Linked DNA regions of Homo sapiens: all the other regions are linked to region 1. The links come from fine-mapping of genetic effects on gene expression. A gene starts in region 1. Each other region holds a variant in brackets. All regions are shown on one strand. Distances are between the middles of the regions. Region 1 holds the start of ZNF138 (zinc finger protein 138). Region 2 overlaps ZNF138 (zinc finger protein 138). Region 3 overlaps LOC124901656 (a long non-coding RNA gene).

What was found. PIP is the estimated chance that this variant, and not a neighbour inherited with it, causes the effect.
Region 2: its variant is the best candidate, but not a certain one, in a credible set for the expression of ZNF138 in whole blood (INTERVAL, PIP 0.70).
Region 3: its variant is the best candidate, but not a certain one, in a credible set for the expression of ZNF138 in whole blood (INTERVAL, PIP 0.74).

What each region holds. Positions count from the first base shown.
Region 1 is chr7:64,787,775-64,798,591 of GRCh38, forward strand. It overlaps ZNF138 (zinc finger protein 138), which reads left to right and starts at 6,654. Exons shown (of 4, transcript NM_001271639.2): 1 at 6,654-6,797. The coding sequence starts at 6,795. RefSeq lists enhancers at 6,380-6,429, 6,670-6,909, 6,694-7,254.
Region 2 is chr7:64,832,684-64,843,500 of GRCh38, forward strand. It overlaps ZNF138 (zinc finger protein 138), which reads left to right. Exons shown (of 4, transcript NM_001271639.2): 4 at 1-997. Among named protein-coding and RNA genes, the nearest start is that of ZNF138, 44 kb to the left of the region's middle. The variant A/G (reference allele first, on the strand shown) is at 4,286.
Region 3 is chr7:64,635,633-64,646,449 of GRCh38, forward strand. LOC124901656 (a long non-coding RNA gene) reads left to right here. Exons shown (of 7, transcript XR_007060350.1): 4 at 3,855-3,974; 5 at 7,320-7,799; 6 at 7,938-8,041. It overlaps LOC105375326 (a long non-coding RNA gene), which reads right to left and starts at 446. Exons shown (of 3, transcript XR_927602.2): 1 at 299-446. The variant G/A (reference allele first, on the strand shown) is at 5,064.

The DNA.
Region 1 (10,817 bases):
ACATGTTATGCTCATGGATTGGTAGACTCAATATTGTCAATGTGACCATAATGCCAAAAGCAATCTACAAATTCAAGGCAATTTCCATCAGAATAACATCATCATTCTTCACAGATCTAGAAAAAAAAAACCCTAAAATTATATGGAACCAAAAAGAGCATGCATAGCAAAAGCAAGACTAAGCAAAAAGAACAAATCTGGAAGCATCACATTATCTGACTCCAAACTACACTACAAGACTATAGTTACCAAAGCAACATGGTACTGGTATAAAAATAGGCATGTAGACCAATGGAACAGAATAGCAAAACCAGATATAAAGCCAAATACTTTCAGCTAACTGATCTTCAACAAAGTAAACAAAAACACAAAGTGGGGAAAGAACACTCTATTAAATGAATGGTGCGGAAATAATTGGAAAGCCACATGTAGTAGAATAAAACTGAATTTTTTTCTCTCACTTTATAAAAAAATTAACTCAAGGCCAGGCACGATGGTTCATGCTTGTAATCCCAGCGCTTTGGGAGACTGAGGCAGGCAGATCAATTGAGGTCAGGAGTTTGAGACCAGCCTGGCCAACATGGTGAAACCCCGTTTTCTACTAGAAAACACAAAATTTAGTTGGGCATGGTGCCACATGTCTGTAATCTTAACTATTCAGAAGGCTGAGGCATGAGAATTGTTTGAACCCTGGAGGCAGAGATTGCAGTGAACAGAGATCCTGCCACTGCACTTCAGCCTGGGTGACAGAGCAAGACTGTCTAAAAAAAAATGATTCAAGGTGGAGTGCAGTGGCTCACACCTGTAATCCCAGCACTTTGGGAAGCCAAGGCAGGCAGATAACCTGAGACCAGCAGTTCCAGACCAGCCTGGCTAACATGGCAAAACACTGTCTCTACTAAAAATGCAAAAATTGGCCGGGGTGGCTCACGCCTGTAATCCCAGCACTTTGGGAAGCTGAGGCGGGCAGATCACGAGGTGTGGAGTTCAAGATCAGCCTGACCAACATGGAGACTAAAAATACAAAAATTAGCTGGGTGTGGTGGTGTGTGCCTGTAATCCCAGCTACTCGGCAGGCTGAGGCAAGAGAATTGCTTGAACCCAGGAGATGGAGGTTGCAGTGAGCCGAGATCGTGCCACTGCACTCCAGCCTGGGCAACAGAGTGAGACTTCGTCTCAAAAAAATACAAAAATACAAAAACTAGCCTGGGCGTTGTGGCCGGCACCTATAATTCCAGCTACTTGGGAGGCTGAGGCAGGAGAATCGCTTGAGCCCCAGGGGCGAAGATTGCTGTGAGCCCAAATCACACCACTACACTCCAGCCTGGGCAACAGAGCGAGACTGCATCTCAAAAAAATAAGAAAATACAAAAATACAAAAATTAGCCCGGGTGTGGTGGCCAGTGCCTGTAATTCCAGCTAAGGAAGGAGACCACTACTACTCCTGCTGCCCTCCTCCCACACCTTGCCTAGTTCACAAGACAGGAGGAGAGAAAAAGCAAAAAGTTGGAAAAAAAACAAAAGTAAGATAAATAGCCAGACAACCTTGGCACCACCACCCGGCCCTAGGAGTTAAAAAAAGTAACAATAATGACATCAACCCCTGACCTAAACTACTTGTGTTATCTGTAAATTCCAGACACTATATGAAAAAAGCATTGTAAAGCTTTTTGTTCTGTTAGCTGATGCATGTAGCCCCCAGTCACGTTTCCCATGCTTGCTTGATGTATCACGACCCTTTCACGTGGACCCCTTAAAGTTGCAAGCCTTTAAAAAGGCCAAGAATTTCTCTTTCGGGGAGCTCGGCTTTTAAGACGTGAGTCTGCCGACGCTCCCGGCCAGATAAAAAACTCTTCCGTCTTTAATCCAGTGTCTGAGGAGTTTTGTCTGCGGCTCATCCTGCTACATAGCTACTCGGGAGGTTGAGGCAGGGGAATCGCTTGAACCAGGGGGGCAAAGATTGCAGTGAGCTGAGATTGTTCCACTTCACTCCAGCCTGGGCAAAAGAGCGAGACTCTGCCTCAGACAAACAAACAAACAAAAAAAGATTTAAAAAATCAACACAAGATGGATCAAAGACTTAAGTCTAAGTCCTGAAATTATAAAAATTTTAGCAGATAATATAGAAAAAACTCCTCTACACATTGGCTTAGTCAAAAAGTTTGTGACCAAGTACCCAAAACCAAATGCGACAAAAAAAGATAAATAAATGTGACTTAATTACACGGAAAAGTTTCTGCACAGCAAAAGAGATAATTCAAGCAGTAAACAGATAACCCACAGAGTGAGAAGAAAGGTTCACAAACCATGCTTCCAACAAAGGACTTATATTCAGAATCTGCAAGAAACTCAGGCCGGGTGTGGTGGCTCAGGCCTGTAATCCCAGCACTTTGGGAGGCCAAGGCGGGCGGATCACCTGAGGTCAGGAGTTCAAGACCAGCCTGTTCAACATGGTGAAACCCTGTCTCTACTAAAAATACAAAAGTTAGCTGGGTGTAGTGGCAGGTGCCTCTAATCCCAGCTACTCAGTAGGCTGAAGCAGGAGAATCACTTGAACCCGGGAGGCGGAGGTTGCAGTGACCCAAGATCGCGCCATTGCACTCCAGCCTGGGCGACGAAGCAAGACTCTGTCTCAAAACAAACAAACAAAAAAACAAAATAATGGCACTCAGAGCAACCTGGATAAAGTTGGAGATCATTATTCTAAGTAAAGTAACCCAGAAATGGAAAACCAAGCATGGCATGTTGTCACTTTTTAGTGAGAGCTAAACTATGAGGATATAAAGGCATAAGAATTATGTCACATAATGGACTCTAGAAACTTGGGGGAAAGGGCGGTGTGGGGTTGAGGGATAAAAGACTACACATTGGGTACAGCGTATACTGCTCTGTAGATGGGTGCACCAAAATCTCACACACCACTGCTAAAGAACTTATTCATGTAACCAAACACCACCTGTACCCCCAAAACTATTGAAATAGTAATGATAAAAACAAGAAACACAGAAAACTCCATAAGTTTAAGTTTATATGCTTTGGCATTTTATTTTTTTTAGAAAGGGTCTCCCTCTGTCACCCAGAATGAAGTACAGTGGCTTGATCACGGCTCACTGCAGCCTCGACCTTTTGGGCTCAGGCAATTCGCCTTCCTCAGCCTCCTAAATAGCTGGTACTACAAGTGCGGGCCACCATACCCAGCTAATGTTTGTATTATTTGTAAACATAGGGTTTTGCCATGTTGCCCAGGCTGGACTTGTATTCCTAGGCTTAAACAGTCTTTGTTTCTTGGCTTTTTAAAGTGCTGGGATTAGGTTGGGCACAGTGGCTCGTGCTTGTAATCCCAGCATTTTGGGAGGATGAGACGGTTGGATCACTTGAGGTCAGGCATTTGAAACCAGCCTGGCCAACATGGTGAAACCCCGTCTCTACTAATTATCTAATTCTCTAGAGAATTTTGCAGCCAACTTTATATATGAACAAACTTATGCCTTGATAGGTACAAGATGAAGGGTCAATGTGGGTGAGAAATTCTAATGGGACATTTGTTGCCTCATAATATCAGAAACACAGAATATAGGTCCACTGCTCTTAACCTACTTCAGAAGTTAAAAAGAACTCATTCACAATAAGTTTCAGAGCATTGCCTGGCCATTACTCTTCTAAATAAGCATCATTTGTTAGGTCTTTTTTTTTTTTTTTTTTTCATGGTTCAGGGTAAAAAAATCAGGCATTGGTTAGACATTTATCCTTCATAATAGTCTCTATAGCAGATTCTACTGCAAAGGCTATGGTTACACAATAGACTTTTTTTACTAAAGTTGTGCTAAATAATGGAATTTCTTGAGATTACTTATTGCATAAACAGAAAAGTATCTGTGTAGTTGCTAATATGCATAGTTGCACATGGAGAAATATATTATAGAGATTATACAGAAATATATTACACGTATTACAGAGATTCAGTTACGGGGGTTTAAGAAACAGGCTGCTTGGTTGAAATGAGGAGACCATTTATTTAGCTGATAACTTGGTCTATCTCTCAAAATTGAGAAGATAACCAAAAAGGAGAAATTGTTAAATTATAGCCTGAAGCTCTCTGTTTTCATGTTTAATTTTGGTCAGTAGGTTTTTTGTTTGTTTGTTTTTCTTTTTTTTTTTTTTTTGGTACATACTAAACTGAAACCTAACTGGATATGTAAGTAGATTATAACCCATTCCTGTACCAGCCACTGTGATTTTGCCAATAAAAGGACATCAACTCTTCAAACCATGTTCAAATAAGGCAAATCCCAAGCTGTAATCAATTTGGCTGTTTCTGTACCTCAATTTCATTTTCTGTATGCCACTTTGCTTTTTCTGTTGATCAATTTTTTTACCATGTTGCTGTGCTGGAGTCTCTCTGAGCCTATTCTGGGCCCACAGGCTGCCTGATTTGCAAATCATTCTTTGTTCATTTAGACTCTGTTACATTCAATTTCTCTGAAGGTTTTGTTTTTTTTTTTAGATGTTTACAGATTTTATCTATGATAAAAAATAAGTAATGTGTTGCTGGGCTTTGATTTTCTCAACTCATCCCTCATCTATCTTTTTCCACATATGCTATGTCCTTTTGAAATGCTCCTGCAACTTTTTTCTTTTCTGTTTCTTTTCTTTTCTTTTTTTTTTTTTGGAGAAAGGATCACACTCTCACCACCCAGGCTGAAGTGCAGTGTCGTAACCAATCATGGCTCACTGCAGCCTCGACCTTCCAGGCTCAAGTAATCCTCTTGCCTCTGCCACCTGAGTAGCTGGGACTACAGGATTGCCTCATGCTGGCTAATTTTTATTTTTATTTATTTTTATTTTTTATTTTTTTTGAGACGGAGTCTCGCTCTGTCACCCAGGCTGGAGTGCAGTGGTGGGATCTTGGCTCACTGCAAGCCCCATCTCGTGGGTTCATGCCATTCTCCTGCCTCAGCCTCCCGAGCAGCTGGGACTGTATTTTTAGTAGAGACGGGGTTTCACCGTGTTAGCCAGGATGGTCTCGATCTCCTGACCTCGTGATCTGCCCTCCTCGGCCTCCCAAAGTGCTGGGATTACAGGCATGAGCCACCGCGCCCGGCCATGACTGGCTAATTAAAAAAAAAAAAATTTTCATGCACATAGGATCTTAACTATGTTATTCAGGCTGCACTTGAACTCCTGAGCGCAAGTGATTCTCCCATCTCAGCTTGCCAAAGTGCTAGGATTATAGATGTGAGCTACCGTGTGCTTCTTCAATTTCTTAAGATTATTTCTAGCAATAATAATAAACAGTGCTATATGGGCACAAATCTAAAAGAAATCTGGCTTCTATTTTAGAAGTGTCACTCTCCAGGATTTCAAGGGTCAAATGGAGTTAATTCTGAGTCCCAGCCCAGCCACTTAATAGCTGTGGGTCTTTGCACAAATTTTTTTTTTTTTGATGTGGAAGAGTTATATAAACCACATATGCAAAAAAAGGCAGAATGATACTGATTGCAAAAATGTTAGCAATTTTTCATCCCTCCGCTATCCATGCCCATTGCCAGGTGCATTTACAGCTGTTTCCATTGAGATCCAGTTCTGTTTTCCAAACCCTAGATCTGGCTGGCCTTATTTGCTCAGGGCAGTAAAAACCTGTGAACAGTGCAGTGTGCTAGTTTGAGGCGTAGGCTCAAATGGTTTTGCATGCTTCTGTTTTTCTTTCAGAAGGCTACTATCTCCGCGAAAAAAGCCCATGTTAGCCAGATGGAAGATAAAATAGTATGGGGAGGAGAAGCAAGTTGCCTCTGTTGACAGCCTCAGAAGCAGAAGCTCACCCCCAGAAGCACAGCTGCCTAGTCAACAAGCAGCTGATGATACATGTCTGAAGGAACTCAGCTGAGGTCACAAGAATGGTCTCACTGAGCCCAGCCTAAATGACTAACCATCTCAATTAGAGTGAATTCCACCTGTTTATTCTTAAAGTTTGACTACTAGAAAATTTGGAATTCACATGTGCTCTGTAATCCCAGCACTTTGGGAGGCCGAGGCAGGTGGATCACCTGAGGTCAGGAGTTCGAGATCAGCCTGACCAACATGGCAAAATTCTGTCTCTATTAAATATACAAAAAGTAGCCGGGCGTGGAGGCGGGTGCCTGTAATCCCAATTACTCAGGAGGCTAAGGCAGGAGAATCACTTGAGCCCGAGATGCGGAGTTTGGGGTGAGCCGAAATCGTGCCACTGTGCTTGAGCCTGGGTGAGAGTGAGACTCTGTCTCAAAAAAAAAAAAGAAAAAAATCTCAGGCTGCCTGCTCAAAGGACCAGAAGCCAGTACGGTTATAAAATCTGGAATTTAAAAATAATTGTTATATTCAGATGTGAATAGCTATATGTTATTTATAAATGCATACGACCTTATACACAAGGTTAAATGCAAATGCCCTCTGGGGTGGGCCTGACTCAGCTCAGGGAGGAAGCCCTTCTGGAAAAGGCTGCTGCTTAGGTTTAACTCTGTCTTCCTTCAGCCCAGCACCTGAGCACATCTGTCACTCAGGGCCTGAGGGGGCGGGTTGTTAAACGTTATCCAATCAGGGACGCCGGGCTGGGAACGGTCCAATCAGGCACCCAGCTGGAGCGGACATGACGTCTTCCGGGAGGCGGCGGGGTCTTTGTCTCGCTGCAGCGGGTGCTGCAGGTCTGGCCTTCACTTTTCTGCGTCCTCTTACTCCTAGAGGCCCAGCCTCTGTGGCGCTGTGATCTGGTTATTGGGAGATTCACAGCTAAGACGCCAGGATCCCCCGGAAGCCTAGAAATGGTGAGAGTGCTGGGTCCGACATCCCGAGAGAGGGGGAGGGAGCTGGTTGGAACCGGTCGGAAGTGGCTGTGGCAGTACTCGGGTCTTCCCGCAGTCGGCTGCAAAATCCGCGGCCCCGAGTTCTTGGCACAGCTCGGCCCTCAGTCCCCTTAAGCCATAGCATGGCAGCTGGGCTGACAGCCGGAACCAGGCGTCCTGTCTCCTCCCTGCGCAGTGACTGTGCCCTGGCCTGGAGCCCTCTCTGAGCAGCTCTGCACCCGCAGCGATTGTGCAGAGACGACGGGAGGGTCGTCAGGGGAGAATCCTGACTCGGGGTGCTGGGTTCATGAATGGGAAGAGGTTTCCTCCGCGGGCTTCCCTGTCCCTCTTTTCCCCTATTAAAATTTATGAAAGTCACCGCAAAAAAATTAATTTAATCAAACAGTGATTCAAGAATTGTGGAGCACCCAGCTGTGGTTTGCAGTAGTGGTCCGTGGGAGGGGTTTGAAGGAAACACTTGTATAAGGTGTATGATAAAACCAAATTCAGTAATTGGTTAGTAGAGTTATGTAGTTTCTTAATTTGTACAATGAAGGAGGAAATTTCCTGGTCATGTAATCAGAGGTTAATTGGCAGTTTACAGTTGGTTAAACATGAATTTTATTTTTCACAAGGTAGTAATTTACAAAAAAATGCATTTGAGTTAGATTTTTTTAAAACCAGAAACCCTGGGACTGGAGCGACCTCAGTCTAATTGCCTGCCACTTAATTATTTTCACACTCCACAGGGGACAGATCTTCCCCTTCATTTTTCACATGTGTCCCAAGCAGGGTCTCAAGACTCCTCCCCCTCCCCATTTCCCATTCCTTCAGCCTAACTCTGGCTTGCAGTAAAATACTAAATTTCCAGTTCCTTCTGACATTCCCAAATGCCAACTTCCCCTTCCTAATTCACATTATCAACTATTTGTCCTTTAGTGTACATTTGAAATACTGTATTTTAATTAATCATTTTTTGACAAAGCATGGATGGCATTTTAAAAAAGATTTGTTATCTGTTTGTAAATATTTCCCATGAGAAGAAACCAAAGACTCATCCCCTGATGCTGTATTGTAAAAAATCTCTGTGCCTTTTTTTTTTTTTTTAAATCTTCCCTAGGTACAGAGATCTTATCAGAATATTTTTGGGTCAAGGTTTCCCTTTGGAAACTTTATAAGGTAATGTGTCCTTAGTCACTCTTCAGTTTTTTCCTTGGTCCTGGGTTTCAGTACTTTCTGAGGATAAATCAAAATATCCACTGTGGCTGTGTATGCTAGAATCTCTGGTAAATTTCAGCTCCTGGCCTGGAATGAACTCTGGTTATCTGGGAATGGGAGACAGAGGACAACCTGAGGTTGGAGTGTAGCCTCTCAAGGGAGCAGGTGAATGCCCTGGGGCTGAGAGGAATCTCCTGGTGTACTCTTCCTTTGAAAAGCAAACCCTTTGAGAAGTTAAGATTGTCTTCAAACCAACCCAGTGTCCATTTCCGGAGACATATTGCTGGTCAATCAATCATATGCTGGTATTGAGGGGAGAACACAGAAATAATTTCGGCCCACTGGATTCTCTAAGATTTGTGAAAGAAATGATAGTATCCAAAAAGACAAATCAAACCTTACCCCAGTGAGATGGTTCAAGAACTTGCAAAGTGAAATGTACTTGGGGCAGTCACTGAGGCATAGTGCAGCGTCTTCAGAGAGGGTGGTCTTCAGAGAGGGTGGTCGTTTAGCACTTAAGTGAGCAGGATGGGGTGGGAGAATCTCTCAAGTGATTGGGTGGCTTGACTTGACATGTGAGTGAGATACATCTGTTTTTTAATCAGCACTGCCACTCCCTGGGATTGTCACCCTGAAAAGATTTGTTCACTTACTTCAGTGTTTTAATTGTAACTTGCAGTTTATTAGTAGGACTAAAAGGTAAGAGGATAATTAGAATGGGCATGAAAGAGATGGGTTTTGGAAAAAAATATCTAATCATATATTCTATTTGTTAAGTATTCTCATTTACCTTTTTCTTTCCCAGACTGAGTTTAGGAATTTTCTCAGGTCTGTTTTTTTATGGCTGGGTGATGTCCAAGAGTATTCCAAGGCTTAGCTTTTAGAATGCTACCAAGGAAAAGAATAGGGAAAATACTTCTTCCATTTTGGCTGTGGAAAACGAATACATTTCCGGCGGGGTGCGGTGGCTCATGCCTGAAATCCCAGCACTGTGGGAGGCCAAGGCAGGGAGATCACCTGAGGTCAGGAGTTCTAGACCAGCCTGGCCAACATGGTGAAACCCCATCTCTACTAAAAATACAAAAATTAGAAATTAGCCATGAATGGTGATAGGCACCTGTAATCCCAGCTATTCGGGAGGCTGAGGTGGGAGAATCATTTGAACCCCATAGGCAGAGGTTGCAGTGAGCTGAGATCGTGCGGCTGCACTCCACCTTGGGCGACAGAGCGAGACTCCATCTCAAGAAAAAAGAAAGAAAGAAAATGAATACATTTCCACAAGAAGATGTGGTAGATAATTGGTGAGTTATACAGATTCATGAAAATATCAGTTCCTCCTTTTTCAGGGTACATTTCAGTGAATACCTCTCTTCTGTATCCAGTCATCTTGATTTCTGAGGTTAATGCTAAATTTTTTAAGATGAAACTTGGTCTATCCTAGAAGTGTTCCCATATGACTAATTGTTTACTACATCATTTTTAATGGATATAATAAAATAATTATTTATCGTTTTAAAAGATTACATACTTTTGCATTTGAGATATGTGACGTAAGTGCTTTAAAATTTCCTTCCCTTATATAAACACTGTGTTTGAGTAATTTTGCTGAATTTTTCAGTTTAAAAAACCATTTGAACAACTCCGACATGGAAATTAAAGCTTGCGCCAGTGACTGCAAGCTAAGGCTAATATTGAGCCTACAAAGGGAAGGGAGGTTATTAAAGGCCCAGTTAGTTCTTTCTAGGAAGCCTCCCCTGCGGATGTCGGAGCCTGCTCACCCCAGCCATGGAAGAACCTTTATACTGAGAGAAGCTACAGAGCCCTGGAAAACTGGAGACCCACAGGCAGATGCAGTAAACATTAAGATGGAAGGGGATTGGGAGGGTCATACTCAGGATGAAGTTGTTATTGTTTTGAGGCAGTTTCTAGACTTTGTAAAATAAAACAAAATTAGGTTTATTTTTTAAAAAATTCTAAAATACTGCAACAGAAGGAAGTACCAACTATATAATCTTTAAGGATTGCAAAGTTTAGGCAGATAAAGGCTTTCTTAGGGAGGAGCAAAAAAGATTAGAAGGTGAGAGGGGAATGGCAAATGGAGGGTGTATAAATCAGATTTTATTTTTTATTTTTTAATTAAATTATTTTTTTGAGACAGAGTCTTACTTTGTTGCCCAGGCTGGAGTGCAGTGGCTGGATATCACCTCACTGCAACCTCTGCCTCCTGGGTTCAAGTGACTGTCATGCCACAGCCTCCTGAGAAGCTGGGATTACAGCCGCCCACCACCATGCCGGGCTAATTTTTGTATTTTTACTAGAAATGGGGTTTTGCCATATTGGCCAGGGTGGTCTCAAACTCCTGACCTCAGGTGATCTGCTCTTCTCAGCCTCTCAAAGTGCTGGGATTACAGGCGTGAGCCACCACGCTCAGCCCAAATCAGATTTTAGATTAGAAAATGTTTTACCCTGAAGTCAGCAAGTTTTTAGGAGAAACATAAAATGGGGTTGTATGTTGGCTCAGACTGAGTAGCTCAAAGTTCAGGAGCTGTGGGAAGGAGATAAACTTAACTATATTTTGATTAAGAAGTATTTTATTTGACCGCTGAAGAAAAATTCGGCTATTTTTTTAAATACAAAAAAGAAAATCTTATACATAGTGCTAGCTAGTTATTCCAGTACCATTTTATTAAATAGGGAATTCTGGCCGGGCATGGTGGCTTACGCCTGTAATCCCAGCTCTTTGGGAGGCCAAGGCGGGTGGATCACCTGAGGTCGGGAGTTTGA
Region 2 (10,817 bases), 45 kb after region 1:
GCAAGGTCTTTAAGAAGTCCTCAACTCTTACTGCACATAAGATCATTCATACTGGAGAGAAACCTTACAAATGTGAGGAATGTGGCAAAGGTTTTAGCCAACTCTCAAACCTTACTAAACACAAGAAGATTCATACTAGAGAGAAACCCTACAAATGTGAAGAATGTGGCATATCTTTTAACCAGTTCTCACAACTTGCTATACATAAGATGATTCACACTTGAATGAAACCCTACAAATGTGAACGATGTGGCAGTTGTTTTAACTAGTTCTCGAACTTTACTATGCATAAGAAAATTCAAACTGGAGAGAAACTCTACAAATGTGAAGAATGTGGCAAAGCTTTTAACCAAGTCTCAACACTTACTATACATAAGATAATTTATACTGGAGCAAAACCTTGGAAATTCAAAGAATGTGGTAAAACTTACAATCCTCAAAACTTCTTACACCTAAAATTCATGCAGGAGAGAAACACCACAAATGTGAAAAATTTGGTAAATTCTTTAACAAGTCTTCAACCCTTTCTGCACATAATATAATTCATACTGGAGAGAAACCCCACAAATATGAAGAATGTGGTAATGCTTTTAACCAATTCTCAAATCTTACTAAACAAAATTAATACTGAAAATGTTACAAACCAGAAAAATGTGAAAATGATTTTAACAAAACCTTCAAATTTTTCTAAACATAAAGGAAATCATACTGGTAAGAAATTATAAAAATGTGAAGAATGTGACAAAGCCTTTAAATGGTTGTCACACTTGATTGTAGGTAAGATAATTCATACTGGCAGAAACTCCCAGAAGTGTGAAGAATATGGCAAAACTTTAATTCCTATACCTTATTGCACAGGAAAGCATTTATACTTCAGAAAATGTTGTACTGATATAAAGAATGTAGAAAAGCCATTAATATGTGCTTACATCTTATTCAACATTAGAGAGTTAGTACTTAATAAAAGCATTATAAATGCAATTACTGTCAAAACTCAGCATAAGGTTTTGTTTTAGTGTGTGGTTTGTTTGTTTGTTTGTTTTGTTTTGTTTTTTTTAAATGAGACTACGTAATACTCTCTCCCAGGCTGGAGTGCACTGGTGCAATCTTGGTTTACCGTAACCTCTGCCTTCCAGGTTCAAGCAATTCTCCTGCCTGGGCCTCCAGAATAGCTGGGACTACAGGCATGTACCATCACGCCCGGCTAAGTTTTGTATTTTTTAGTAGAGACAGGATTTTACTGTGTTGGCCAGGCTCATCTCGAACTCCTGACTTGAAATGATCCATACACCTCTGCCTCCCAAAGTGCTGGAATAACAGGTGTGAGCCACTGTTCCCAGCCAATATAAGCCTTTAAAGTAAAAAAAGAGTTTTTATTTTGAAGACAAACATTAGAAACATAAAGAGGGTTGTAGTGCCTGCCTTACTTGTATCACAGATCTTATTGTACACATTTTGTATCCGAAGCAGTTGCTCAAACTTCGTTCAACATCAGGGAATTTATATCGGAGAAAAACTACAAATGTAATACATTTCAAAAATTTTTCAAAAACTACATCTTAGAAAACACCAGGGGATGCATACTAAACTATATTTTTCCACATGCAGTAAATATAAAAAAAATCAAAAATAAGGCTACGTAAGTATCAGAGAATTCACAGTAAAAATATCTAAGGCACTGACACTTCAAACATTGCACTAAGTAAATGTGCTGAGTATATAAAATAACCCAAAACTAAAGTGGGTAGATAAATTATTTGTACATAACTTTAAAAGAAGTAGAAATATTTTTGCAGAGTTACAATTACATTCAAAGTATACTTTTTTCCTTGAAAAAAATTGCAGAATTTATGAAAAGTGAATAATGTAATTCAACTCAAATTACTTCATGCTCTTCATTCCTATTGCATTCACTAGTGAAAGCATGTGATCAATTGTTGCTGCATCAAAGGTATGAGAGATTCTTTTTTGTTATGTCAATATTGTTTTTGAATTTTTCTATGGAAGAGTAAAGACATTACAATGTAGGATGCATGACAAAAGTCTAAGTGGAGAGGCTCTTTGTGTTTAATTTATAATATTGAGTGATGTATGAGGTAAGTGTTCAGAGTAGTATTCTGCGTTATACTCCAAACAAAATAATTTTAGTTAAAATTAATTAGTATATAATTTTACTAATTGTACTTTTATGTAATAAAATGCAGTACAGTTTGAAAGGCAATGGAAGGGCACCGTGGATCAATAAGGCCAAGAGGCGAGACAAAGAGGGCAAAAATCTTTATTGAGCTCTCGGGCGAGGTTCACTGGTCCACAGGGGGAGGGCCAGGGAAGTCGCACTGTGCCAAAGGTGCAGCGCGCTTTTATGGATGCTGGGTGAGGAGTGGGCAGGGTAGGGGCGGGGTCGGTTGAGTTTCACACTTCTGAGTGTGACACGCCCTAGTGGGCATGCGCGTTAGTCGGGGTGACGGGAACAGGAAAGGTGAACCCGGAAATGCTGAGTCGGGGTATCTGAGGTGGTGATCGCCATCTTGGAGTCTTCACTGGAGTCCAATCAGTCCAGCCTATTTTTGGTTATAGAAAAGGGGCGACGAAATCATCTGGCTACTTCCTGCTGTTAAGGGGTGTCACTGGGGAGAGGGCCTAAATCAGAGGTTGGCAGTTGGACGTAGGGGTGAAGTAACATCTGGTTGAAAGTGACCCTGGTGATTTCTTGTATCCGCTGGCGGAGAAACTGTACTAGGATTGGGGCAAAACACATTATTATACAGAGAATTATAATTGGGATAAGGAAAGGGAGCATCTGTTGAACCACAGGTGAAAACCACCAAGAAGGACCAGGGTGGAGAGGGTCCTAGGAATGTTTTAACTCCTCTTGGATCTTTTTTTTTTAAAGTTTGTAAATTGGTCTCAACTACCCCTGACACGTTGAGATAATAGCAGCATTCTTCCTGTAAGAATAAACATGTCCCTCCTTTTTCTGCTGTAAGCAAGTCTAAGGCCCGCCTGTTCTGTGCTGCGACCTGTGCTACCGAAGTGATCTGTCGCTGTAGGGAGGCCAGGGACTCGGCCGATGCCTCAATGGCCAACTGCAGGCGAGTAGACAGATCTTGAGATGTTTGGATTGAGTGGGTGAGGGCTCCTTTTCCTAGCCCTGATGCCACTAAGGAGGAGGCTAAGGAGATGCCTAGTACTAAGGGTAGGAAAATAGCCCGTTTGCTTTTATTTTGCAGCCTTGGCTCGGTCCAGGCTAGCAGATGGCTAAGTTCGTCCTGACTATATAGGGTCAGGCTAGGGATGAGAGAGACGAGTAAGCACAAGGTGTGATTACCAGTTGAGTTAAGAACTTTAGTTAGTGTGGAGTTACACCAGAAGTAGCCTCCGGGTGGTGCCAGGGCGCTGGTAAGCATCCTGGTCTGGTTACACCAAGAGGCATTTGGGGTAGAGTAACAGAACGGGAACTTGTGTCTTGTAGGGTCTGAGAATAGTGGGACCTGTCCTTTTGGGACCGGTGGTATAGGGGTGGATGAATTTCTTGTATAATTAAAGGGGGTAGGGAGAGGAACTGCTACTAAGGGAGGTCTTCCGAGGGCTGCACAGAGGAAGCAGTGGGAGAGGTTTTGTACCCCTGTGGATTGGAGCAATTGTGCACCTTCTGAAATTAAAAACCACGAGAAGGGGGAGGACTTGGCCTGGTCAGCTGCCGGTTGAAGCTGGCTGGCAAGCTCTTTCTCGGCTGACTGGATTGAGGAGGCTAAGTCGGATAACCCTGTGACAGTGGTTTTAAGGGTCCTGGCAATGCGGATCTTAGCTACTGGATACATAAAAGTTCTGTGCTCATATAGTCCTCCATCTACACCAGAGGCCCAGCGGGGGTCCTAAGGGTCAGAGATTTGGAGGTTAAATCCGTTAAAGCCGTCCCATCCTCCAGTGGAGGTACTGACATAGAACATTGGGTCAGATCCTTTTTCAGTACGAATTAATGCCTCATGGATATTGCACCAGTGCCACGGACAGCCTACATTTTCTTTGACCCAGCTGGTATTGCATTTGGAGTTACTTTGATCATACAGGAAGCAAAGTGCAGGGTTTTTTCTAGCCTGGCCTAGGGAAGAGAATTTTAGACCTAGGAAAGCTATGGGTGCCTGGCACCCTGCTGGCGGGCATGCTGCCATGGCTAGTAGTCTAGGAGACTGCCTGTGTGGAACTCCAATTCTCAGTGAGGGGAAAAAACCCAGTGAGAGGGAGTCTGAGAGGGGGCTTGTCAAAGCGAACTTCATGTTGGTGA[A/G]AGTTCTGGAGGGAGCCTTGCCACACCAGTTCGTCTATATAGGACAACAGATTTTCAGGCCAGCGAAAGGTGTTAGCAAAAGTAGGGAATGACCAGCTTTCCTCGAGAAGAACCTGAATAAATTGTTGGAGCCTGTCACATGGAGAATTCATGCGGTATTTGATTTAAAGAGTTTCAGTTTGGTTGGGGGGAGGGAAGTGACAGTCCAAGTGGCCTGATGTTGTGTAGGTGCCCTCTTAAGATGGGAAATATGGTACCAGGAGGGAAGGCCTGTAAGTTTAGCTGCCGTCGGTGTTGTAAGAATTACCATGTAGGGGCCTTTCCACGGGGGGAGAGACCTCTTGCCTGGAGGTCTTTTACTAGTACCTGATCTTCTGGGGTTATTATGGCTGGACTGTCTGGGCTGAGCGGTCCGGGCTTTGGAAGGCTGCAGTTGGCATGTTCTCTTAGCAGCTCCCTTAACAGGGTGAGGTAGGGCAGGTACGTGCCAAGAGGTGGGGTATTCACAGGGAGCTCTTGAAAGAGGAAGGGGCGCCTGTATAGGAGTTCAAAGGGGCTAAGGCCTGTGGGGCTTTGGGGTGCTGCCCAGAGCCACGCGAGGGCAAAGGGAAGTAAGGTTACCCAAGATTGGCGCGTCTCGAGAGCCAATTTGATTAGGTGTTGTTTGACAAGGCTGTTGGCGCGTTCCACTTTTCCAGAAGACTGCGGATGGTATGGAGTGTGTAACTTCCAGTTAACGTCAAGTGTGGTTGTCACCTGTTTGACTATTTTGGAGATAAAAGCAGGCCAAATCTTGGGGTTATCTGTTCGATGAGGGTTGAAGCTACTACCTCTGCTGTTTTATGAGTGGTAGGGCAGGCTTTAACCTAACCTGAGAAAGTGTTTACTAAAGTAAGAAGATAAGTTGATGTATTTGCTTTAGTAAGGAATAAAGGGAAGGATGGTAGATTATGGGTTCAAGAAAGTTATATAGTGGTCTAGGCGGAAGGGCAGTGAAGGCGTCTGGCGGTAGGTGGAGGGAATGCCATCAATCCTTATAACAGAGATTGAGGAGGGGCGGCTGGGTCTGCTAAAAGATGGCAAAACAGAGTAGGTAGCCCTTGTGTCTAGTAAAAAGGAAATGGACTTACCCGCTACCTGAAGCATTACCCTGGGCTCGGCAAGGGTGAGAGGGGTTCCCAAGTCTGGGCCTCTTCAGTCGTCATCCAGTTGGAGGAGCTGGAGGGCACCTTCGCCATCCGAGGAGGGGTCGCCATGTGGAGACACAGCGGCCGCTCCGAGGCCGGGGCAGTCTGACTTCCAGTGCCCCATTTGTTGGCAGTTAGGGCACGGGCGTGTTGGCGGCTTGGGGTTTGGGCACTGTTTTGCCCAATGACCTGGATTGCCACACTTGAAACAGTTGCAAGGCAGGCAGGACGGTTGCTGTTGGCTAGGGCACCGGCTGGCCGTGTCCTGAGTTGCCGCACTTGAAGCAGGTGCCAGACGGGGCCTGGGAGATCGTACCTCTACCTCTCCTGCTGGGGCTCTTAGGGAATGCCGGTTGCAGGGCAGCTGCCAGGGCTTGGGTTTGGAGCTGAACTTTTTGTTTCAGTCTTGCCTGTCGTTGTACCTCAGCCGCCTCCTCTCGGGAATTAAAAACTTTGAACGCCAGCTTTACTAAGTCCTGGATAGGGGTTTGGGGGCCCTCCGCTGCCTCATCCAGGATTAGCGGATATCACTGCCCGCAGCGAATGTGTTAGGAGTTGTAGATGTAGTGGACTGGTATGGCACTACAGGGAGGTGGAAATAAGAATGGGGGTAAGATGGAAGCCAAGGAGTTAGGTGGGCAGGGTTAAAAGAACAAATGGGAACTAACAGGAATTAAAATGGCGGCCAAATGGCGGCAGAAGAACTAAAATGGTGGCAGAGAAAAAAGGAAGTAAGATGGCGGCGGTGAGGAAGCAGGTAGTAAGATGGCAGTGGTGCAGAAGGAGATGGCGGCGGAGAGACTAAGATGGGGGCCGTGGACAAGATTAATGGCAAGAGAGGCTGGTCAGACTTCAAGGGGAAGGCTAGCCAGAGGGACTTGTGCCAGCGAAAACACTTGGCGGCAGCGGTCTGACGAGAGCGGAGGTCCCAGAACCTTTGAACAAATTTGATTTTTGACTATTTGCCTCGCCTCTGACAAAAATTGGTAAGGTCGTTTAGGATATTGAAGTTGAGTGTGCCTTCGGGGGGCCAGCGAGATTGGTTGTCTAAGGTATATTGCGGCCAGGCAACTGTGCAGAAGAAAATTAGTTGCTTTCGTTTTAAATCTTGGTCGAGTTGTAAAGTTGGGAGGTTGCGCAGGAGGCACCCTAAGGGGGTGTTTTGCGTGATTTTGGACTGGGTGGACCCCATCCTCTTCCCTTTATGGCAGCCGTCTGAGGGACAGCAGAAGCGTCCTTCTGGGGTCACTCAGACCACGCAGCTCCTGGAGCCTCGGATCGGCTACTTCAGACACAGACGTCTCTGAGTCGTCAATGCCGATTTGGACTTCCCCTGGGGAAGTAAACTTGGGTCTCCTGGTGACCCGGACTGGCCTTCCCTTGAGGAAGGAAACTCTCCCTGGGTGTGCGCATGACTCTCGGCCAGGGAGGAATGGACAAAAGGAAAAAGGAGGGGTACTCACCCAGCGTCTGCCGAATTGGACTGGAGTAGCTGCAGCAGCTGTGACCTGGCGGCAAGTAACCGGACGAAATGGACCGATGGCCGTGGAGGAGAAGCCTGACCTGACTGAGGGAGAGGCCTGATCCGACCAGGAGGGGAGTCTTCCCGAGCCTCTGGGGGGCTTAGGAGGTGTCCCCTCCCGTGTTTCGGCACCAATGAAAGGCAATGGAAGGGCACCATGGATCAATAAGGCGGAGAGGCGAGACAAAGAGGGCAAAAATCTTCTTTATTGAGCTCTCAGGTGAGGTTCACTGGTCCGCAGCGGGAGGGCCAGGGAAGTCGCACTGTGCCAAAGGTGCAGCGCACTTTTATGGATGCTGGGTGAGGAGTGGGCGGGGTAGGGGCGGGGTCGGTTGAGTTTCGCGCTTCTGAGTGTGACACGTCCTAGTGGGCATGCGCGTTAGTCGGGGTGGTGGGAACAGGAAAGGTGAACCTGGAAATGCTGAGTCGGGGTATCTGAGGTGGCGATCGCCATCTTGGAGTCTTCACCAGAGTCCAATCACAGTTTTAAAGATTTAGATTATTATAAACTTAATTTTTTAATTAAAAATTTTAACATAAGACCACTGTGCATTCAATGAAGTATTATTATGCCACTAACTTTTACCTATCCTACCTTACTCAAGGGTGTAGGTCAAAGATGGTAACAATAGACTATTTGATAACATAATGGACTAACATCTCCAATAATTTATTTTGCCAGTGGCTTCAAACTGCAAATAAATTAATGAATATCGTTCCCGTTGGTTAAATTTTTTATTTATAATTTAAACTTATTTTTCTCAATTTTTGTGTGTACATAGTATCTGTTTATATTTATGTCATTATATGGCATTTTTTGATACAGTCATATAATTTATGTATTAATCAGATAAGGGCAAATGAAGTTTCCATCAACTCTAGCATTTATCTTTTGGATTACTAACCCATTCTACACTTTTACTTACTTTAAAATGTACAATTAAATGCTACTGACTACAGGGTCATTTTTATGAGTGAAATAAAAATTATTTACAAGTATAAATAAAACCCTGAGTCTTAAAATTCTGAGTTCTGCTTAAACATTTAAAAAAATTTGTTATGTATTTTTCTTTGAACATTTGGTCTCTCTCTGCCTGCAAACATACAGAATTTTAGTTTTAATTTACATAAAATTAGCTATGCACGTATGTTACTCTAAATAAACCTTAGGTGCAAGAAAATTATAGAGTATATATGAGGATGAGTCTGTACCTATTTTCAGAAGAATAGAGCAATATTGTAACAAAACAAATATTTTAATAAGGTGACTTATTAACTGAAACTGAAAACCTCAAAAATGCTGAAAGCAAATCTATACTCTGCTTTTTTTTTAAATTTATTACTGTAAAATCTTCTGACTTAGGGTTCAGAATCTCCCCATGAAAAATTTCTGTTTTTCCTTGCCTAGTACTCATGCTAGACCTATAATTTTCTTGTCTCTTACGATTTTTTCTTTTATAGTTTATGAGGTATTCATTACGTGAGCTGGTCATGACTAATAACGATTTTTATAAAATTTAATGCACACTGAACAATTTTTAGATGTATTTCCAAAATTGTGTATTTTATTAGGACATTTGATTTTTTCTTTTAATTGGAGAATTCTACATAAGCCTGTATTTTTTAACTTTTTTTGTTCTCATTATAATTGACATAAATATATTTATTGAGGCAATTTGTTCAGATAAGAACTCGGGATGCTTCATAAGTCATGATGTTTTTTAATATATAAATGTGGCGAACAAACATGACAGTGCTTGCTGTGTAGCAGATGCTCCATGATAAGCCATAAATATTCCTGCTAGAGTTAGTTTGTAAGTTCAAGTCGGAGAGGGAAAATATCAATAGTGAAGAAATAAGATTGATTCTTCCCGTGGAGATAACAATTGTTTTCATGCTGCGAAGCTAAATATTGCTGAACCTAAAGAGAAACTCTGTTTCTTTTATTTCCTAATTATCTTTAGTTTTGTTTGTCTTATTATGTGTCTTCTGTGTATTCATCACAGCCCCTCTCCCTTTTTTCTACGTGATTGCTACAGTTTTCTCATTGTCTTCATGCCATGTCATTTTACATGGTACTTTGTAGGTTTTGATGAGAAAGTTGGTATTTTTAATGCACTCAAAAATTGGTTTTAGTTAGAGAGTTTGCTTATCAATATAACTTTCAGATCAGTTAATTAAGATAAAACGCATACACTGTCCATAGATCAGAGGATTAAATAACTTAGCATTGTTTTTCTGTTTGTAAACGGAAAATCTTATTAAATTCTTACACAGAGTGTGACACATTTAATATTTGCTAGAAAATGCATCTTAGAAATTAAATTATTAAGAGTTAGTGGTGAGGAATTTTAAATTTAATGTTCTATGATATAGCACAACACAGATTTATTTATTTATTTATGAAATGGAATCTTGCTCTGTCACCCAGGCTGGAGTGCAGTGGCGTGATCTTGGCTCACTGCAACCTCCGCCTCTTGGGTGCAAGCAATGCTCCTGCCTCAGCCTCCCTAGTAGCTGGGATTGCAGGTGCCTGCCACTACACCCAGCTAATTTTTGTATTTTTAGTACAGACGTGGTTTCACCATGTTGGCCAGGCTGGTCTCGAACTCCTGACCTCGTGATCTGCCCTCCTCTGCCTCCCAAAGTGCTGGGATTATAGGCGTGAGCCACTGTGCCCTGCTGAATCTTTTATTTTTAAGTGTGAATGTTAAAGGTTGCAAAATAATAAAATGACCTCTGTGGATTTGAAATTTGGAATAATATTTCTTGTCCATATTGATATTACAACTCAGAGGAATTTCACCCTGTTATTTTATGTGTCTTTTTAGTGAGTGAAGGTCAGTGTACAGTTTATATTCTTAGTCACCTGTCGTCAACTTCTTGGTCATTTTCTCTGGAAAAATTCTGGAGATGATGGCAACTTTTAGATTATTTTGTGTTACTTTTTATGCAAACTTGTTCATTGTGTTCCCAGAGTGGCCAGTCATAAGTCTGTAAGCAACACCTTCCCTTTTAGTGTCTTCCATGTCATCACCATCTGTAATAAATAAGTAAATGTGTATTTATTTTGTAAAACATAATACTTGGAAGTATATATACATTGTCAAATGCTTAATTCTAGGTAGTTACCTCACATAGTTAACATTTTTGTGGCAAGAGCATGTGACATTGTCAGCATTTTTCAAAACTACAAATACATTATTTTGATCTATAGTCACTATGCTGTACAAAACAATCTCTTGAACTTATTCTATTAACTATAATTATGTATTTTTTGATCAACATCTTTTCAAACCCTCCTTTCTCCTAAATAACTTGTGTCTGGTGGCCACCACTTTACTTCAATAAGATTAAGTTTTTTAGAATCCCTTTGTAAGTGAAATCATGAAATAATAATCTTTGTGCCTGGCTCATTTCGACAAATATAATGTTTTCCTCCAGGTTAATTCGTGTGATTGAAAATAATAAAATTTCCTTCTTTAAAGATGAATAGTATTCCATTGTGTGTATATACCACATTGTCTTTATTTACTCATTAAATGTTGAAACCACTGATTTTATATTTTGGTAATTGTGAAGAGTGTTGTAAAAAACAGGCACATGTTTCTTCATTCTGATTTCGTTTGTTTTGGATGTATAACCAATAATAAAATTGCTGTATTTGGTGGTTTAATTTTAAATTTTTTTGAGAAATCCTTATTTTGTTTTTTGTAATGACTGTCCTCATTCACATTCAAACCATCAGTGTGCAAGCATTGCCATTTTTTCACACCTTGACTAACACATTTTTAAAATAGGAGTAATTCTAACAGAAATAAGT
Region 3 (10,817 bases), 150 kb before region 1:
AATCGACTCTCATATGTAGATTTGGTTCACATTTGCGTTTGTGACTCTTAAATCAACATTTAGCAAACCTGTGAGGCCATCACTCTACTAAGAAGACACAGTCCACAGGATGGATTGAGGCTCTCATTCTTTGGTCCAGTCCACCATTGAGACTGTGACTCATGTAGTTATACCCAACATGACATTTCACTGTGCCGAGCACCTAGCTGATGTGACTCCTTTTATTTCTGGGTTCTGTCTCCAGAGAAGATTGTGAAATATTGCTAGGCCTTTCACCTAGATGATGTTACTGTCTTACCTCGGCTCTTTCCTCAAGGAATATCGTGACATATTGCTGGACCTAGCATCTAGGTGATCTGACTCTTTTCTGTTGCTAGGGATCTGCCTAAAAAAAGGATTTAGTTGTATTGCTGGGCTTAACACCTAGGCAGTGTGACCCTCCCCTCCCACCTGAGTTCTTCATACATTGTGTATTGAGACATAGGGTCAGGTCCAACACCTAGGTTATGCAACTCTCCTTGATGGGCTCTGCCCTTAGGGGTATCTTTTTATTCATTGCCTAAGTTATGTGACTCTCCTTTTCTGCCAGAGCTTTGCCAGAAGTGGGGATTGTGACATATAACTGGACCCAGCACCTCGGTAATATGACTGTTCTTGTTTTACTGGCCTGAGCATATTTTGGGTACTGTGATATATCTCTTAGCCCAACACCCAGGGGCTGGGAGGCTTCTGCTTGGGCCCTGTCCACAGGGGGCCTTTTGACATATTTCTGCATTTATCACCTAGGAGATGTAACTCTTCATTCTGCCTGAACCCTGGCCACGAAAAAAAAATCGTGACAGATTTTTTAGGCCAGTAACCAGGTGATGTGAATTTCCTCTCCTACCTAGGCACTGCCCATAGGGGGCACTGTGACATATCACTGGGCTCCACACCCAAGGTATGTGATTCTTCTGCCTGTTCCCTGCCCACATAAGGCATTATAACATGTTATTTAGTCCAAAACCCAGGTAATGTAACTCTCCTGCTTAGACCCTGACTACAGGGGGCACTGTGACATATCTCTATGCACATCTCGCAGGTGATATGACACTCTCGTTTTGCCTGATCACTGCTCATGTGGGGGATTGTAAAATACCACTGGGCCAAGCACCAAAGTGACATTGCTCTTTTCTCTTTGGCTTGGCCTTGCCCTCAGAAGGCATTGTGACATATTGCTGGACCCAGCACCAACGTGATGTGAGTCTCTTTCCTGAACTCTGTCCACAGGGGACATTGTGACATATCTCTGGGCCTGTCAACTACTTGATGTAACTCTCTACTCTTACCTGGGCATTGCCTGTAGAAGAGATTGTGACAATTCCCTCCTGAAAGCAGAACACGGGCAGCCGAGTTACATAACCTGGACGCATGGCCTAGTGATAGTTCCCAATCTTCCTTGTGGGCAGGGTGCAGGTAGGAAAGTCATATCTTCTAAGTGATAGATGCAGATAAGTATCAAAAGGTCCCCACATAGGCAGGATCCATGCACAAGCCTCCCATCTCCCAGTGGTGGGGCCCAGCAATTTGTTACGATACCCAAAATATGTGAGGCCCAGGCAAAAGGAGAGAGTCACATCACCTAGGTGCTGTGTTCAGTGATATGTCACAATCCTTCTATTTGGCAGGGCTCTGGTGGAATAAGAGAGTCACATCACATAGGTAATAAAGAAAAAGATATTTTAAAGTACCCTGTGGGCAAAACCCAGGCAGGAGAGTCACATCATGTAGGTATTGGACTCAGCCATATGTCATAACACACAATGAATACAGGACCCAGGCAAAGGAGGAGTCATATTATTTAGGTGCTGAGCCCACAGGTATATATCAGAATCTCACTTTTTGGCAAAGCTCAGATGTGAAAAGAGCATCATATCCAATAGTTGAGGGGCCTAGAGATATGTCAAAATGCCCTGGGTGGGCAGGGACCATGTGGAGGATTAAGGTAAAAGAGGAAAGTTACATCAAAAGTTTATAGACTAAAAAATACGTTGCAGTGCTCTCTGTGGGCAGGGACCAGGCAGAAGAATTACATCACTTGTGTGCTGAGGTCAGCAATAAGTCACTTTTTTTTTTTTCTGAGGGGGTTTGTCCAGAAGGAGAGGACCCAGAGACAGAGATATGTCAGAATCTTTCAAAAGCAAAGTGCAAGTAAGAATAGAGAGTCACATCAAATAGTTGATAAGTTTGAGATATGTCACAATGTGTCTCCAGGCAAAAGAGCCACATGATTTTTGTGCTAGGCCCAGCAATAGGGCTGAATGCCTTTCCAGGTCAGGGCCAAAGCGAAACGGTAACATCCTGTTAGTGTTGGGTCCAGTGGTATGTCACAATTTTCCCTGAAGACAGAACCTAAAAACAATAGAAGAGCCACAATCCCCTCTGTTAGCATGAATCAGGAAGGGGAAGAGATTTATGTAACCTGGTTGATGGGTACACACATATATCACAATGTCCTCTGTAAGAAGTTCCCAGGCAGGGAAGTTTCATTACCTAAGTGTCAGGAATCAGGAAGGAGAAGAGATTTATGTAACCTGGTTGATAGGTACACAAATATGTCACAATGTTTCCCGTAAGCAGTGCCCAGGCAGGAGAGTTACATTACCTAAGTGTTAGACTCAGCAGTATGTCCCATTGGCCCATGTGGGCAAGGCACAGGCAGAAGAGCCACAAATCCTTGACACAGGATGCAGCAATATATCATAATGCTCCCTGTATACAACACCAAGGCAGAAGAAAAGACTCACATAACTTGGGTGCAAGACCCAGCAGTATGTCATAATTCTTCATGTGGGCAATGACAAGGCTTGAGAGTAGAGTCACACCACCAAGGTGCAGGGTCGAGCAATATGTCACAATTTTATCTGTGAGTTCACTCCAGGCAGCAAAGTCGAACCACTTAGGTGCTGGGTAAAGGTGTATGTCACAATCACACTTGCAGGAAGGTCCAGGAATAAGATCACAATCCCACACATGTTCTAGTTCTAGGTGGGAGTGTCAACATATCTTGTATGTTGGGTCAATCTCTCCCAAGAGGATTGACCGTACACCCATATCACACCCTGCTGACAGTAAAGATTGTTATCATTTCCCGTGAACACAGCCCACTGTTGAGATTCTGAAACTCACACCTGGAGGCAGTCAAAAGTTGGAAAATTGACTCTCATATGTGGATCAGGTCCACAAGTGTTCTGGTGACTCTCAGGCTAAGATTCAGCAAACCTGTGAGGCTGGGACTCTACTAAGGTGAGATAGTCTGCAGGAAAGATTGAGGCTCCCATGCACTGATCCAGTCCACTGCTGAGATGGTGACTCATGTACTTAAACCCAACATACAAGAGGTGCTGACTTTCATACCTAGAACCCGGACATGTGTGGGCTTGTTAATACCATCCCTGCACCTTCCTACAGGTGTGATAGTTAAATAAGTCTCTGCCCAGCTCTTAAGTGATTTGACTCTCTTGCCTGGGCCCGGCCCACAGTTCAAAATGTGCCATGTTGCTGGACCTGGCCCCTAGGTAATGTGATCTAGTCTCCTGTCTCAGCACTGCCCACAGTGGGCATTGTGACATATCACCGGGCCTTGCACCCAGGTGATGTGAGTCTTCTCTTCTGCTTTGGCACTGCCCAAAGTAGACATTGTTACATATCACCAGGCCTTGCACTCAGGTAATGTAACTGTCTTGTCATGGCCCTGCCTGCAGGAGGCTCCATGATGTCACTGTCTTCTTCTACCTGGTCTTTGCTCACAGCGGGTATTGTGACATATTGCTATGCCCAGAATCCAGCTGATGTGACTCTCCTCTTTTTTCTAGGTTCTGCCCACAAGGGAAATGGTGACATATCACTGTGCCCAGCACCAAGGTGACGTTACTCTTTTGCCTTGGCCCTGCCCTCAGAAGACATTGTGACAAATAGCTGAGCCCAGAACCAAGGTGAACCTGCCTGAAACCTCCCCACAGGGTCATTGTGACCTATCTCTGGGCCAACCAACTATTTAATGTGTCTCTCCTCTCTTGCCTGGGACTTGCCCATAGGAAAGATTGTGACATATCTCTGGGCATAGGACCTAGGTGATATGACTTGCTGTGCTTGTCTGGGCAATTTCCACAGAAGAGAGAATGACTTATTCCTGGGCTCAGCATACAGGTGATGTGATTCTTCTGCCTGATCACTGCCCACAGGAGTTATTGTGACATGTCTCTGGGCCAATTACCTAGATAATGAGACTCTTCTCTTCTTTCTGGGACCTGTCCATGGCAGGGATTGTGACATATGGCTTGGCCCAACACCTACCTTTTTTTTTTCTCCTTTTTTTTGAGATGGAATTTTGTTCTTGTTTTCCAGCACGTAGTGCAATGGTGTCATCTTGGCTCACCGCAACCTCCGCCTCCAGGGTTCAAGCGATTCTCCTGCCTCAGCCTCCCAAGTAGCTGGGATTACAGGCACCCACCACCACACCCAGCTAATTTTGTATTTTTAGTATGGATGGGGTTTCTTTGCCCCCCTTATTTAGGCGATGTGAATTTTTTTCTTGGGGCCTACCCTCAAAGGGTATTGTGACAAATTGCCAAACTCAGCACCTAGTTTATGTGACTCTTTTCTATTGCTTGAGCTATGCCCTGAAAGGGACTGTGATGTACCACTGGGCCTAGCACCTAGGTGACATGACTTGCATCTTCTGCCTGGGTACTCTATATATTGTGTATTGTGACATATGGCTTGGTCCATTGAGACTCTTCTGCATGGGCTCTGGCCACAGGGGTATTATGAAACATTTTTTTATTCATCACCTAGGTGATGTGACTCTCCTCTTCTTCCTGGGCCTCACATATCAGTGGACCAAGCACCTCTGTGATTTGACTCTCTTTTTTTCTCAAAATCCACATACTTTGGATATTGTGACATATTGCTGGGTCCAAAACTTTCAGAAAGGGAAGTTCCTGCCTGGGCACTGCCTTGTGATAAATATCTGCATTGTCACGCATAGGGCCTTGTGATATATATCTGCGTCTGTCACCAAG[G/A]AGATGTAACTCCCCTCTTCAGCCTGCATTCTGTCCACATGGAAGATTGTGACATATTCCTCTCCCAGCCCCCGGTTGATGTGACTCTCCTGCTCAATCCTTACCAACAAATGAGATTGTGACATATATCTTGGCCTAACTTCTATGTGTGATGATGACTCTCATTCCTCAAATTAGCTAGTAAAAATAAATACTCTCTCTTATAGCTAGGCTGAGGGAAACAGGTAAGATGCTGGGTCTCCTCTTTGTACAAAGATCATAAAGAATTACCACTTTCTCCCACATTGTATAAAGCCCTTGGGTGATGCAGAGAGCGTAAATTCAGGGGAGATTTTTCTTTTCATAGACACACCCAGCCAACTATTAGCACTGTCACCTTGACACATGAAGAGAGCCCAATGGTGACATCCTCAATCCAACTTATGGATGCAGTCCACGGTTAGATTTGTGATTGCATATGTGAACATCTGAACATCTGGCCACAGTTGGAATGTTTACTCATTTCTTTTTCTCTTTTTTTTTTTTTTGAGACGAAGTCTCGCTCTTGTCACCCCGGCTGGAGTGCAATGGCGCAATCTTGGCTCACTGCACCCTTCACCTCCTGGGTTCAAGCAATTTTCCTGCCTCAGTCTCCCCAGTAGCTGGGATTACAGCCACCTGCCCCCACATCTGGCTAATTTTTGTATTTTTAGTAGAAATGGTGTTTCACCATGTTAGCCAGGCTGGTCTCGAACTCCTGACCTCAGGCAATCCACTTGCCTCAGCCTCCCAAAGTGCTGGCATTACAGGTGTGAGCCACCACACCCAGCCCATGGTTACTCATTTCTAAACCGAGCTTATAGGCAGGTGAAGACCCTCCTATCTAAAACCAGTCATTTTAAGAGATATTCAGTCTCATATCTGTGCCTACAACCACAGGTAAGATAGTGGTTATAAGCCCAAATACAGTTATAAACCTAGAGCATTGTGACATATCTCTGGATCCAAGTACAAAGGTTTCAGAGCAGATTGCAACTCTCATGCATACTGTGTGATGTCCTTAGTAAAACAGAGAGGGTCCCTACAGTATCCAGCACACAAGTAAAATTGTGACACTTGTATGCACACATGGCCAACAATAAAGACTGTCATTCAACCACATAAACACAGCCAATGTTGGGGTCCTGAATCTCACAACCAGAGGCAGTCAAAAGTTGGAAAATTGACTCCCATACATGGATCTGGTCCACAGGTGGGTTTGTGACTCTCAGGCCAAGATTCAGCAAACCTGTGAGGCTGTGACTCTATGAAGAATATACAGTGGACTTGAGGGACTGTGGCTCCCAAGCATGGATCCAGTCACCTGTTGAAATTGTGACTCATGTACTTGGACCTTACATACAGGAGGTATCGACTCTAATACCTAGGACCGGGACATGTACATAATTGTTCATTTTATCCCTGGACCTTTATGCAGGTGTGATTGTAAAATATTTCTTTGCCCAATACCTGAGTGATTTGACTTTCCTAGCTGGGCACAACAGGTGGAATTGCGACATATTGCTTAACTCAGAACCTACGTGATGTGTCATTATTCTCCTGCCTTGGTATTGCCCACAGGGGCATTTTGCTATATCTCTGGGCTTTGCACCAAGGTTATGTGGGCCTCCCCTCCTGCTTTGGCACTGCTCACAGGGGTATTGTGACATGTTGCTGGGTTCTGCATCTTGGTACTAGATGGCTTCTGCCTGTGCCCTGTCCCCAGGAATAATTGTAAAATATTGGCTGGGTGCAGTGGCTCATGCCTGTAATCCCAGCACTTTGGGAGGCCAAGGTGGGTGGATCAAAAGGTCAGGAGTTTGAGACCAGCCTTGCCAACATGGTGAAACTCCGTCTCTACTAAAAATACAAAAATTAACTGGGCATGGTGGCACGCACCTGTAATCCCAGCTACTCAAGAGGCTGAGGAAGGAGAATTGCTTGAACCCAGGAGGCGGAGGTTGCAGTGAGTTGAGATCATGCCACCTCACTCCAGCCTGGGCAACAGAGCAAGGCTCTGTCTCAAAAAAAAAAAATCGTGACATATTGCTACGTTCAACACCCAAATGATGTAACTTTCCTGCCTCAGTCCTGCTTAATGGGGGCATCATGTTATATACCTCTGCACCTGTCACTCAGGCAACATGACTCTCTTCCCCTGCCTGGTCCTTACAGAGGAGATTGTGACCTACTGCTGGGCCCAGCACCTAGCTGATGTGACTCTTCTCTTTTTCCTAGGTTCTACCAACAGGGAAGATTGTGACATATCACTGGGCCTAACACCAAGGTGTAGTTACACTTTTGCCTTGGCCCAGAACTCTGAAGTTCACTGTGACGTACTGCTGGGCCCAGCACCAAGGTGATGTGAGTCTCCTGCCTGGAGCCTGCACACAGGGGCTATTGTGACATATCTCTGGGCCCATTTACTATTTGTTGTTACTCTCTTCTCTTACCTTGGCTTTGCCTGTAGGAGAGGCAAATCCCAGCACTTTGGGAGACCAAGGCGGGACATAACTCTGGGCCCAGCACCTAGGTGATGTGACTCCCTTTTCTGCCTGGATGGTGCTCACAGAAGAGAAAGTGACTTATTTCTGGGCCCAGCAGAGAGGTGATGTGATTCTTCTGCCTGGTCCCTGCCCACAAAACTCATTGTGACTTAACTCTGGGCCCATCACCTAAATGACGTGACTCTCCTCTTCTTCCTGTGTCCTGTACATGGTAAGTATTGTGACATTTCACCAGGCCTTGCACTTACTAATGATGTGATTTTTCTCTCATGCCTTGGGCCTGCCCACTGAGATAACTGACATAGCTAAACTCAGCCTTTATGTTATGTAATTTTCCTCTTTTTCTGAGTTCTACCAACAGGGAACATTGTAACATATCTCTGGGTCCATCACCTGGATAATGTGACTCTTCTTGGGACCTATTCACAGTGAAAATTGTGACACATCTCTTGGGTAAGCAACTACATGATATGACATTTCTGTTATGCCTGGGCTCTGCCAACTGGGGTGATTGTGACATATAGCTGGGCCCAGCCCCTAGGTTATGTGACTCTCCCTTTGTTTCTGAGCCCTCCCCAAAGGGGAAATTGTGACATATATCTGGGCCTGTCACTCAGGTAATGTGACTCTCCTGCATGAGCCCTCTCCTCAAAGGGTATTGTGACATGTTGCTGAACCCAGAACCTGTGTGAATTGACTCTCTTCTACTGATTGGGCTCTGACCAAGAAAGAATTGTGACGTATCATTAGGCACACCACCAAGGTAATATGACTCTTCTATTGTTTGGGCTTTGTCCAATGAGGGATTTTGACATATTACTGGGCTCAGATCCAGGTGATGTGACTCTCTTTTACTGCCTGAACCTTGCATACATTGCATATTGTGATATAGGACTGAGGCCAACACCTAGGTTTTGTGACTTTTCTGCATGGGGCCTACACACAGGGGCATTCTGTCATATATTTTTGTTCATCACCTAGAAGATGTGACTCTTCTCTTTTACCTGGGCATGGCCAAAAGGGGATTGTGACTTTATTAGTCCATTCTCATACTGCTATAAAGAACTGCCCAAAACTAGGTAATTTATAAAGGAAAGAGGTTGAATTGACTCACATTTCAGCATGACTGGAGAGGCCTCAGGAAATTTACAATTATGGTGGAAGGCAAAGGAAAAGCAAGGCACCTTCTTTACAAGTTGGCAGGAAGGAGAAATTCTGAGCAAAGAAGGAAGAGCCCCTTATAAAACCATCAGATCTTGTGAGAACTCACTATCATGAGAACAGCATGGAAAAAAACCACCCCCTCATTTAATTACCTCCACCTGGTCCCTCCCTTGACGTGTGGGAATTATAAAGATTACACTTCAAGATGAGACTTGGATGGAGACACAGAGCCAAACAATATCTTTGACATATTGGTGGACCAAAATCCTAGATGATGTAACTCCCCTCTTTTTGCTTTGCCCGACATATTTTTGGTACTATGACATATTGCTAGACCCAGAACCTAGGGAATGTGAGTCTCCTGCTTGAGCCCTGCCTGCAGGGAGCCTTGTGAAATCCATCCATCCCCTAAAAATTGCATCTGTCACCTAAAACTTGTGACTCTTCATTTCTGCCTGCATTTTGCCAACAAGAAAAATTCTGACACATTTCTGCATGCAGCAACCAATAGACGTATCTCTCCTGCCTGGGCCTTTCCTACAGGGAGCACTGTGACATATTGCTGGTCCCAGCACCCAGATGAAATGATTCTGCTTCTTCTGCGTTGCTTTCTTTATTTTTTTTTTTTTAATTTTATTATTATTATACTTTAAGTTTTAGGGTACATGTGCACAACGTGCAGGTTAGTTACATATGTATACATGTGCCATGCTGGTGTGCTGCACCCATTAACTCGTCATTTAGCATTAGGTATATCTCCTAATGCTATCCCTCCCCCCTCCCCCCACCCCCCAACAGTCCCCAGAGTGTGATGTTCCCCTTCCTGTGTCCACGTGTTCTCATTGTTCAATTCCCACCTATGAGTGAGAACATGCGGTGTTTGGTTTTTTGTCCTTGCGATAGTTTACTGAGAATGATGATTTCCAATTTCATCCATGTCCCTACAAAGGACATGAACTCATCTTTTTTTATGGCTGCATAGTATTCCATGGTGTATATGTGCCACATTTTGTTAATCCATTCTATCGTTGTTGGACATTTGGGTTGGTTCCAAGTCTTTGCTATTGTGAATAGTGCCGCAATAAACATACATGTGCATGTGTCTTTATAGCAGCATGATTTATAGTCCTTTGGGTATATACCCAGTAATGGGATGGCTGGGTCAAATGGTATTTCTAGTTCTAGATCCCTGAGGAATTGCCACACTGACTTCCACAATGGTTGAACTAGTTTACAGTCCCACCAACAGTGTAAAAGTGTTCCTATTTCTCCACATCCTCTCCAGCACCTGTTGTTTCCTGACTTTTTAATGATTGCCATTCTAACTGGTGTGAGATGGTATCTCATTGTGGTTTTGATTTGCATTTCTCTGATGGCCAGTGATGGTGAGCACTTTTTCATGTGTTTTTTGGCTGCATAAATGTCTTCTTTTGAGAAGTGTCTGTTCATGTCCCTCACCCACTTTTTGATGGGGTTGTTTGTTTTTTTCTTGTAAATTTGTTTGAGTTCATTGTAGATTCTGGATATTAGCCCTTTGTCAGCTGAGTAGGTTGCAAAAATTTTCTCCCATTTTGTAGGTTGCCTGTTCACTCTGATGGTAGTTTCTTTTGCTGTGCAGAAGCTCTTTAATTAGATCCCATTTGTCAATTTTGTCTTTTGTTGCCATTGCTTTTGGTGTTTTAGACATGAAGTCCTTGCCCACGCCTATGTCCTGAATGGTATTGCCTAGGTTTTCTTCTAGGGTTTTTATGGTTTTAGGTCTAACATTTAAGTCTTTAATCCATCTTGAATTAATTTTTGTATAAGGTGTAAGGAAGGGATCTAGTTTCAGCTTTCTACATATGGCTAGCCAATTTTCCCAGCACCATTTATGAAATAGGGAATCCTTTCCCCATTGCTTGTTTTTGTCAGGTTTGTCAAAGATTAGATAGTTGTAGATATGTGGCGTTCTTTCTGAGGGCTCTGTTCTGTTCCATTGATCTGTATCTCTGTTTTGGTACCAGTACCATGCTGTTTTGGTTACTGTAGCCTTGTAGTATAGTTTGAAGTCAGGTAGCGTGATGCC